2 separate regions of the Homo sapiens genome follow, and region 1 is linked to region 2. The links come from fine-mapping of genetic effects on gene expression. A gene starts in region 2. The other region holds a variant in brackets. All regions are shown on one strand. Distances are between the middles of the regions. Region 1 overlaps STAP1 (signal transducing adaptor family member 1). Region 2 holds the start of STAP1 (signal transducing adaptor family member 1).

What was found. PIP is the estimated chance that this variant, and not a neighbour inherited with it, causes the effect.
Region 1: its variant is the best candidate, but not a certain one, in a credible set for the expression of STAP1 in B cells (Fairfax 2012, PIP 0.57).

What each region holds. Positions count from the first base shown.
Region 1 is chr4:67,603,285-67,607,689 of GRCh38, reverse strand. STAP1 (signal transducing adaptor family member 1) reads right to left here. Exons shown (of 9, transcript NM_012108.4): 9 at 353-1,394. The coding sequence ends at 1,333. Among named protein-coding and RNA genes, the nearest start is that of STAP1, 47 kb to the right of the region's middle. The variant A/G (reference allele first, on the strand shown) is at 1,819.
Region 2 is chr4:67,556,162-67,560,566 of GRCh38, reverse strand. It overlaps STAP1 (signal transducing adaptor family member 1), which reads right to left and starts at 1,840. Exons shown (of 9, transcript NM_012108.4): 1 at 1,638-1,840. The coding sequence starts at 1,757.

The sequences.
Region 1 (4,405 bases), 47 kb before region 2:
AAAGCATTTCTCAATGTTTTCATTTGTCATATTTATGATTCCTTATTAATTGTCACTGCCTCTCCATTTAAAAGAAAGCCTGACTTGATTTTGCATATATTGCTACACAGATTATTTATCTTCATATTATAGTAGATCTTAAAGAACTGGTTCTCAAATTTGTTATGTATAGCAATTACCTGTGTTGTATGCTTAAAAGGCAGATTTCTGGACCAGCCTCAGCGCCGCCCCCCCACCCCCAAAATTATAATTCAGTAAGTCTGAGAGAACTCTTCATATTTTCAGGCATCCCAGGAAGCTCACTGAATTAGTTCGGTAGGATTGTCATTACAAATACCACAGACCATGTGGATTAAGGAACACAAATTTATTTTCTCACAAGTCAAGAAGCCGGATTTTCAAGGTTTTGGCCAGGTTGATCTTTTTTTCCCCCCGAGGCCTCTCTCCTTGAGTTGTCAATGGCTGTTTTCTCCCTCTGTCTCACATAGTCTTTCCCCTGTAGAATATAGACCATATCTTTTCATTCTTAGTTGATTGTGTGATTCCCAAATTGATAACCATCAAAATCAATTTAGAAGTTTGCTTTTGAAGAAAAAAATTATGAAAAAATATCCCTGTTATTTTGATTCAGTAGATGCAGTCTGGGGCTGATGGTTCCATATTTTTAAGAACTCCAGGTACTTATAATCAGGCTCATCGTACTTACGACAAGATGATGATACAGCCTTTCACCATCTTTGTAAGGAAATAATGGGCTGATTTTGAGTGGCAAAAAGATGACACCAGGGAAAAACATGGGAATGAAGACATTTATTTCCATTAACAAAAAATGTGGTATATAATATTTCCATTGGAAAAGGGCTCCTCTAGTACATTTCATGTCTCTAACTTCCAGCTAGGTAATTAAAATGACATATTTGATAAATTGGTCAAATCAGATTTCAGCAAAACTTAGGTTTTTTGGGAATTGGTAAAATTTAGAACTAGAGAAACTGCTGTTGGAATTATATAGGGGAAATGTATTTCATTGAGGCCTAAAGAAAAAAATTCCATCTAGAAAGTACTATGTGTTTTCAACTTATGTCAGTGCATGGGAATGTGTATATCTGCAGGTTACCACCACAGCCGTAGTCTCTAGTTTCCCTGTGAATTGGTTTCATTCTGATAAGATAATGAAATTGTATGGTACAATGTTTAATTCTAATTCTGGTGTTCAGGTGAATGACTTGGTAATCAGTATCAGGAGAATATAGGTAATTCTCTTTAAAAGTAAGAACTTCGTTTTGAAAATATAAATTACCAAGATATACAAAGGAGCTTTCACATTGTATTTCATGCAATGTGTGGATTTTTCTTCAACTTTTCACTTCTCCCTTCCATACTGGGTTCTTGACCTAGAAATTGTGGGTAGAAAAACTTAATTAGCGAACCAATATTGTAGAAAACGGTGGTTCTTTATTTTCAGTGAGTTGATTTTCCTGCTCGTGTGTGGAACATTGCTGGTGTGTTTAGTAATTGTTAGGAAAATAAATACTGAATATTCAGATGCTTTTTTAAATTTTATTTTATCCTGGACCTGTAACTTTGTACCTAATAATTTTTTTCTTCCTCTTTAGCTTAATAGGCCTTATATTTTGAAGCGGCTTTTAGTTTAAACTGCTAATTTCTGGAGTTGGGAAATATCTTTGACCATTCTTGTTCCATTATTGCTCTTGTCTTCTGGTGTAAGAGAGAGCCAAATGCTGACATGGGTTAACAGGGATCAAAAAAATCTTATTTTCTTTTAGATAATATTTTATTACATATTAGCTTTTTCCA[A/G]ATCTCCAGATTGGAACCCTTACCTGCTCTACAACTCCCATTTCCCAAGTTTGATGTACTAGCAGTCTCACTGTGCCACAGCCAGCTATGAGTCCAAATTCCTGAAGCAATGTTAGGGTTCCACAAAGTTTTCTTAAAATATCAGCATTATTTGTCAAGATAAGTTTTTATCTTTGTGTAGCTTTTCTTAAAAAGTCCTATTTTCATTGTCATGTACTTTTCCATCATTTTTCTGCTTTTGAAAGAAAATACGTTACACTACAGATAATATTCTAATTATTTAAAGTCTTTCTTCACAGGACCCTCTAATTCCATCTGTTCTTATGTCATTCCCCAGTCCCTATAACAAAGGCATCTGAAATGCAGGGGGAGGCTGAGTAGTTTGTTCCCGACCACAAAGCAAACTGAACACATTCAGTCATATACCAATAGCAATCTGGTTGTCTGTTTCTAAAATCCTTAAGGTGCTTTTTTTTTTTTTTTGTATTGTCTATTTTTTCTTCCCTGGCCCTGCCCTGAGGGTGGGGCCCCTAGTCAAGGTGCAGTACTTTGGCAGTGACAGCATGGGCACCTAAAACCCCAAGAGAAAATTTAGCCTTCCAGCCAGAGAAATCAGGAAAGGTGGGCAGAGGGGAGAATTGGAATTACATTTTTCTCTTTCTTATCTCTAACTTTCTTGGAGAGATTGGGCAACTGCAGTCTCACAGAACTGCAATTACAGCACAGGTGTCATTAATAAGCTCCATCATTCTAGCTAGAACACCAGGAAAAAGGACCCTTGGCGGCTCGAGAGTATGGAGAAATCCCAGAGAGGTGACAGCTGGAAAAGAGTTATTTCCTAGTTCTGTGTATGAAGTGACACAAATTCCAGGCTCACCTCTGAATTGTGCATGCACAGAACCAGATACAAAACAGATGGCAAAGGCGTTGACAGCTAAACTAAGGCATAAACCACAACCAAGTCCCAGGCTGAATACAGACCCAAAACAGCATAACAGAAGCTTTGAAAACTGAACCAATATTGGAATGGCTTCCCACAGAAAGTAAGAGAGAACTGGTTCAATCTAATCAAGATGGTTGCCTGCTTTTAAAAAATGCACCAGAGAATTTTAACAGGACCCAGAGGCTCACAACATAATATTCAAAATGTCCAAGACACAATTCAGAATTACTTGATATATGAAAAACCAGGAATTACTTGATATACAAAAGAAGGAATTTGACCAATTCCCCAGTTTTCAAGGGAAAAGACAATGGATGCCAACACTAAGATAACCAAGATGTTGAAATTATCAGATGAAGACCTTAAAGCAGCTATGCTTCATGAGGTGGTCATAAACATTCTTGAAATGAATATAAAGATAGATGTTCTCAACAAAGAAAAGCTATAAAAACCCAATGGAGAGAGGAGGTGGAGCAAGATGGCCAAATAGAACCCTCCAGCTATCAGCCCCCACCACCACAGGAACACCAAATTAAACAACTGTCTACACTAGAAAGCACCTTAATAAGAACCAAAAATCCGGTGAGCAATTACAGTACTTGGTTTTAACATCATAGCAAGGAAAGAGACACTGAAGAGGGTAGGAAAAATAGTCTTGAATTGCCAACCTGGTCTCTTCCCCCATCTCCCAGCAGTGGCTGCTCGTGCAGAGAGAGAATCTGTGTGCTTAGGAAAAGAAGTAGACAGTGACTGTGGCACTTTGCATTGTAACTCAGTGCTACTTGTCACAGTAGAAAGCAACACAGGGCAGAATTCAGCCAGGACCACAGAAGGGAGCATTTAGACCAGCTCTTGCCAGAGAGAAATCATCCATCCCAGTGGGCAGAATCTGAGCTCTGACTAGTCTCAACACCACAGGCTAAAGTGATCTAGGGTTCGAAATAAATTTGAAAGGCAGTTTAGGCCACAAACACTGAGGGTCCTGGGCAAGTCCTGTGCTGTGCTGGGCTTGGAGCCAGTGGACATGTAGTGCACATGACCTAGTGAGACACCAGCTGGGGTGACCAGGGGAGTGCTTGTGGCACCCCTCCCCCAATCTCAGGCAGCACAACTCCAGGAAAGACTCCTCCTTTCTGCTTGAGTAGAGAAGAGGGGAGCATAAACTTGGAAAGCAACTCAGTTGGAAAGCAGCTCACCCACAGTAGAACAGGGCATCAGGCAGAGTCATGAGGCCTCCATTTCAGGCCCTAGCTTCTGGGCATTTCTAGACACGCCCTGGGCCAGAAGGGAATCTACTGCTTTGAAGGGAAGGACTCAGTCCTGGCAGTATTCATCACCTACTGACTAAAGCATGCTTGAGCCTTGAATAAACATCAACAGTAGCCAAGCAGTACTTGCTGTGGGCCTTGGGTTGAGACCCAGAGCTGTGCTGGCTTCAGGTATGACCCAGCACATTCCTAGCTGTGGTGGCCATAGGGAGAGACTTTTGCTTAAGGAAAGGAAAGGGAAGAGTAAAGGAGACTTTGTCTTGCAGCTTGGGAACCAGTTTGGCCACAGTGGGGTAGAACACCAAGCAGGGCCTTGTGGTTCCCAATTCTAGACCTTGGTTCCTGGATGGCATTTCTGGACCCACCTTGGGTCAGA
Region 2 (4,405 bases):
GGTATTCATTCTGCTTCAAAGAATGCTTTCTAAGAGAAGGTAAAGAGTAGAAATTTGGTAAGGAAGACATCATTCCTACTATATTAAGCCTCTTGAAAATAAAATCTTTGTGTTTTTTTCCATATTCTCCAGAAATGAGTGATGCTTGGTGCATAGGAGGCACACAATAAATGTTGAGTGAATAAATTGATTGAACACCTACTGAATCCTAGAATGTACCTTAGGAGGCAAGTAGCAAGTAGTATACTCTCTATCTTATAGTTGAAACAGTCTCAAGGAGATTGAGTAACTTGCACAAGATCACAAGCTATAAGTGGCAAAACCATCAGATAAAGGACACTCTAAAATTCTTATTCTTTCTGCTAACCATACCAATGACATGTCTTCTTTAAGCATTTAAAAAAAACTGCTATCATAAACAGTTATTATAAATACCTTGGAAAACATTCAATGAACAACCTGATTTAAATTACTAATTAGAATTTTTTTTTCTCAACTTCCCTTTCCTGGCAAAGTGTGACTATGTGGCTTACCTGTGGTGACAAGATTGAATTTACATTAAAAGCATATAGGATCAATCTAAAAAATTCTAATATAACTGAAAGGTAATTATTTATGCATGTTTAACATCCATAACAGAATACAAATTACCATGTCTTTACTCTCAAATAGTAAATGATCTGATTATATATGTAAGAAATGTGAATATGCTATTATAGATTTTTCATATATATAATTTTTCCACAAGTATTCATAAATCCTCAGAAAATATATTTTAGCATCATTAAACATTTCTGATGGAATTTCTGAAAACCTTAAAATTTTTCTAGTTTTAGTCAGTATACAATTTCATAAAATTTGACCTAACTTAATGATTTTTTTATTTAATAACAGGCAATTTTGGGCTTATTTCTCTAATTAATTTCAAGTCATCCATAATTACTGTTTTAAAAGTAATGATTTTAACTAACTATAAGTTTTAATTATTACATTTAAAAATACAGAATGCTTCATGGATTTTCTTAGAGCAAAGGTATTTATGTAGCTTAGTGTACTTAATACCCACAGTAGTACCCCAAAAATTAAAAGTCACTATCTTGAATAGTATTTTAGAACACATAACTATATATAATGTTAAACAGTATGAACTTTGTCATTTTAACAATTTTTACAAAAGCCATTTTTAATAATTTGATCATTATAAACTTCAAATGACTCAGAACAGGAGCAGGTTTAATTTTAATCATGATATCATTTTATCTTAATGGTACATGTCATCATTGAAGCATAGCAATAAATTGTGGAGAAAATACAAGAAACATTTTATCTCCCAAGCCAAAATCTTTTGTGATATTTAAATAAATTCTTTGGAAATTTAGCTTATTGACTTTTTTATATTAGTGCCTTAATATTACAACCTCTGTTATTATACATATTATATATGTGTATACATACAGGTTTAAGCCAGACATTGTATTTAAATTATGAAAAATTGGAATCATTTTTCTGAGCTCAAAGAAGAGAAGATGATTTAATTTCAACAGAAACAAGGAGGTCTTAACACATCACATCACCATGAAATAAATATTAAATTAAAACAGAAGTCTTAGGTTTAACATTATCATCTATAGACTCACCCGGTATCCTGACCGCTTGATTAATAAAAAACCTTCAAAGTACAAAGGTAGAGCAGTAATCTTTAACCTTTCCTGGAAGATCCTGCGAGGGGCTGGTTTTGGGGGCTTCTTAGCCATCATACCCCTCTCTTTGGTGTGTGGTTTGGTTTCTCGTCTCAAACAAAATGAAATCTTCCTTCTGTGAGAGGAAAAGGCAACTGTTCAAAGAGGAAGTCCCAAATTGCTTTTTAACCACCAACACTACCACCAACAGGACACACACACACACAGACGCACACACACACACACACACTTTTTTTTCCATTACTTTTTGTGAGGTAAGAAAGAACAGGTGTAGACTGACTTTCAGAGGGCAATCTCTGGGTAATCCACATGTGCTTAGATTTAAAGCGCAAAATAAACAGAAGATTAACATCACCAGAAGATGAAAGAAACAGGTGTAGAGATTGTGAACTTTAGGGGAGATATCAAGAACACAGTTATTCTTTCTATCTTTGTTTTTGTTTATTGGTGTCCATTTTTATTTGCAGAAGACATGACTTGAATAAACTCAGCTTCATTAAAAATTACTTCATAGAATAATTTTATTAGTACTACTTCTGTTGGTTAAATATTTTAGGGTCAAGTTTTGTGTAAATAAAAAAAATAGTTGTATCTCATGCTCATTTGATGCTTCACTAAATATAAACCACAATTATGGGAACACGGAATATGGAATTTTTTTCTTTTTTCTTTCTTTCTTTTTTTTTTTTTTTTGCCAGTAGATATTCCAAGTACATGAGTTCCCAATGAATATTTAGTGCTATGTTTTGAATGTGTCCTCCAAAACTTATGTGTTAGAAACTTAATCCCCAATGCAACAGTGTTTAGAAATGGGACTTTTAGAAGGTGATTAAGTCATGAGGCCTCTGCCCTCATGAATGAATGAATTAATTAATGCTGTGGGAGTGGGTTTCTTTCTCTTTTTTCAGAGGCAGGGTCTTGCTCTGTTGCCCAGGCTGGAATACACTGGTGCAATCACAGCTCACTGCAGCCTTGACCTCTCAGGCTCAAACAATCCTCACACATCAGCCTCCTAAGTAGCTGGGACTACAAGGCACGCGCCACCACTCCTAGCTAACTTTTTCATTTTTTGTATAGACAGTATCTCCCTATGTTGCCCAGGTTGGTCTCAAACTCTTGGGCTCAAGCGATTCTCCTGCTGTGGCCTCCCAAAGTGCTGGGATTACATGTGTGAGCCATTGCACCTGGCCTGGAAGTGGGTTTTTTATAAAATCAAGTTTGGCACTTTCTCACATGCTATCATCCTCTCTTGCTCTTCTATCTTCTGCCATGGAATGATGCTGCATGAAGGTCCTCATCAGATGCTGGCCATGTTCTTTGACTTCCAGACTCCAGAACCATGAGCGAAATACATTTCTGTTCATTATAAATTACCAGTCTGTGGCATTCTGTTACAGCAACACAAAGGAGTCTAAGATATTTGGCAAAAAAATATCTGGCAGAGAAAGCTGTAAGTTTTCAAACTTTTATTTTGTTCTTTTGTGCTTTCTGAGCTGCAGACCATTGATACTATGATTCATGGATGGACTTCCCACAGTTATCTAGTGAGATTTATAAAGCTATACTGGGGCCAAAGTGCACTCAATGGTTGCATGTAGGAAATGGTCCTTAAGAGATTGGATTTGGCGTAGCACAGTGCAGGAAATGATGGGAGAAAAGAATACTAGAAGGAATTTTGATTTGTCTTACAGGGGTCCTAAGAATTTCTACCATTGCCTATTTCACACTCAGTATTTCAGAACTACTCTAGATTTAGAACAGCCTGGGCCCAGTGAGACCAGCCTATTATTAGAAATCAAAGCAAGTCAGGAGTCTTCAGTCTGATTCTCCTTTCCTAATGGAGAGACTGCATGGTTTTCTCCACCAGTATGGGTCCCACTGATCCTGCAGCTGTAGATATGGGATGACAAATTGTCTACAAAGTGAGGTAGAACAATACGGACTGATTATCAGTAAGTTAGAGAAGAGTGTTCAGATGTATTATCAAAATGAAAACAGCTCAAGACAGAAATAGGGAGTTGAAGATCCAAAATGACTGCTTTGCTTTTGTAAGTTTAGACCTGCTTCTTGCTACCCAACCTTCAAATAATAAAATATAAGTCCAACTGAATTTTTTGAGGCAAAAACCATAACTATTTTTTAGTTTCGGTATACTAAGAAAGTGACTTGAATAACAGGAAAACCTCCTGATTGAATATATGACCTAATCCACTTTCTTGGCAGCTGTTAGTTGTTGTAATACAGGGGGGAAGTGAAAGGAGGGATTAAGAATTGAAAAATGAAAAGAAGCAAGGATAAAGAAAGAATGCTGGGAATCATCAGTGATTACGCACTGACTTTATGGTCAGAAAGTTTCATAGGTGAGAGAAAATAATACCTCTAAAAAAATGTAAAGGGGATTTTTTGTTGTTGTTAAATAAGCACTTAGTTTTTTTTTTGCCTTTAAAATATAAGCAACAATTTAAAAACAGCTAATCAGACACAGTAAGTTACTTTGGTCTGCTGATTTGTTCGTCAAATTCATTCTTAATATACCAAGAATCAAATTATATCTCCCTGAAAAAGACTACAAAATGCAAAAATCTTGCTTAAACAATATTAACAAGTTAGTCCTGTCTGCAATGACTAGTGTCATTGCACCACTGCACCATTACAATGGAAATCCTCTTACAGATACCTCAAGTCTTAGGCAGTGAAGAATAAAT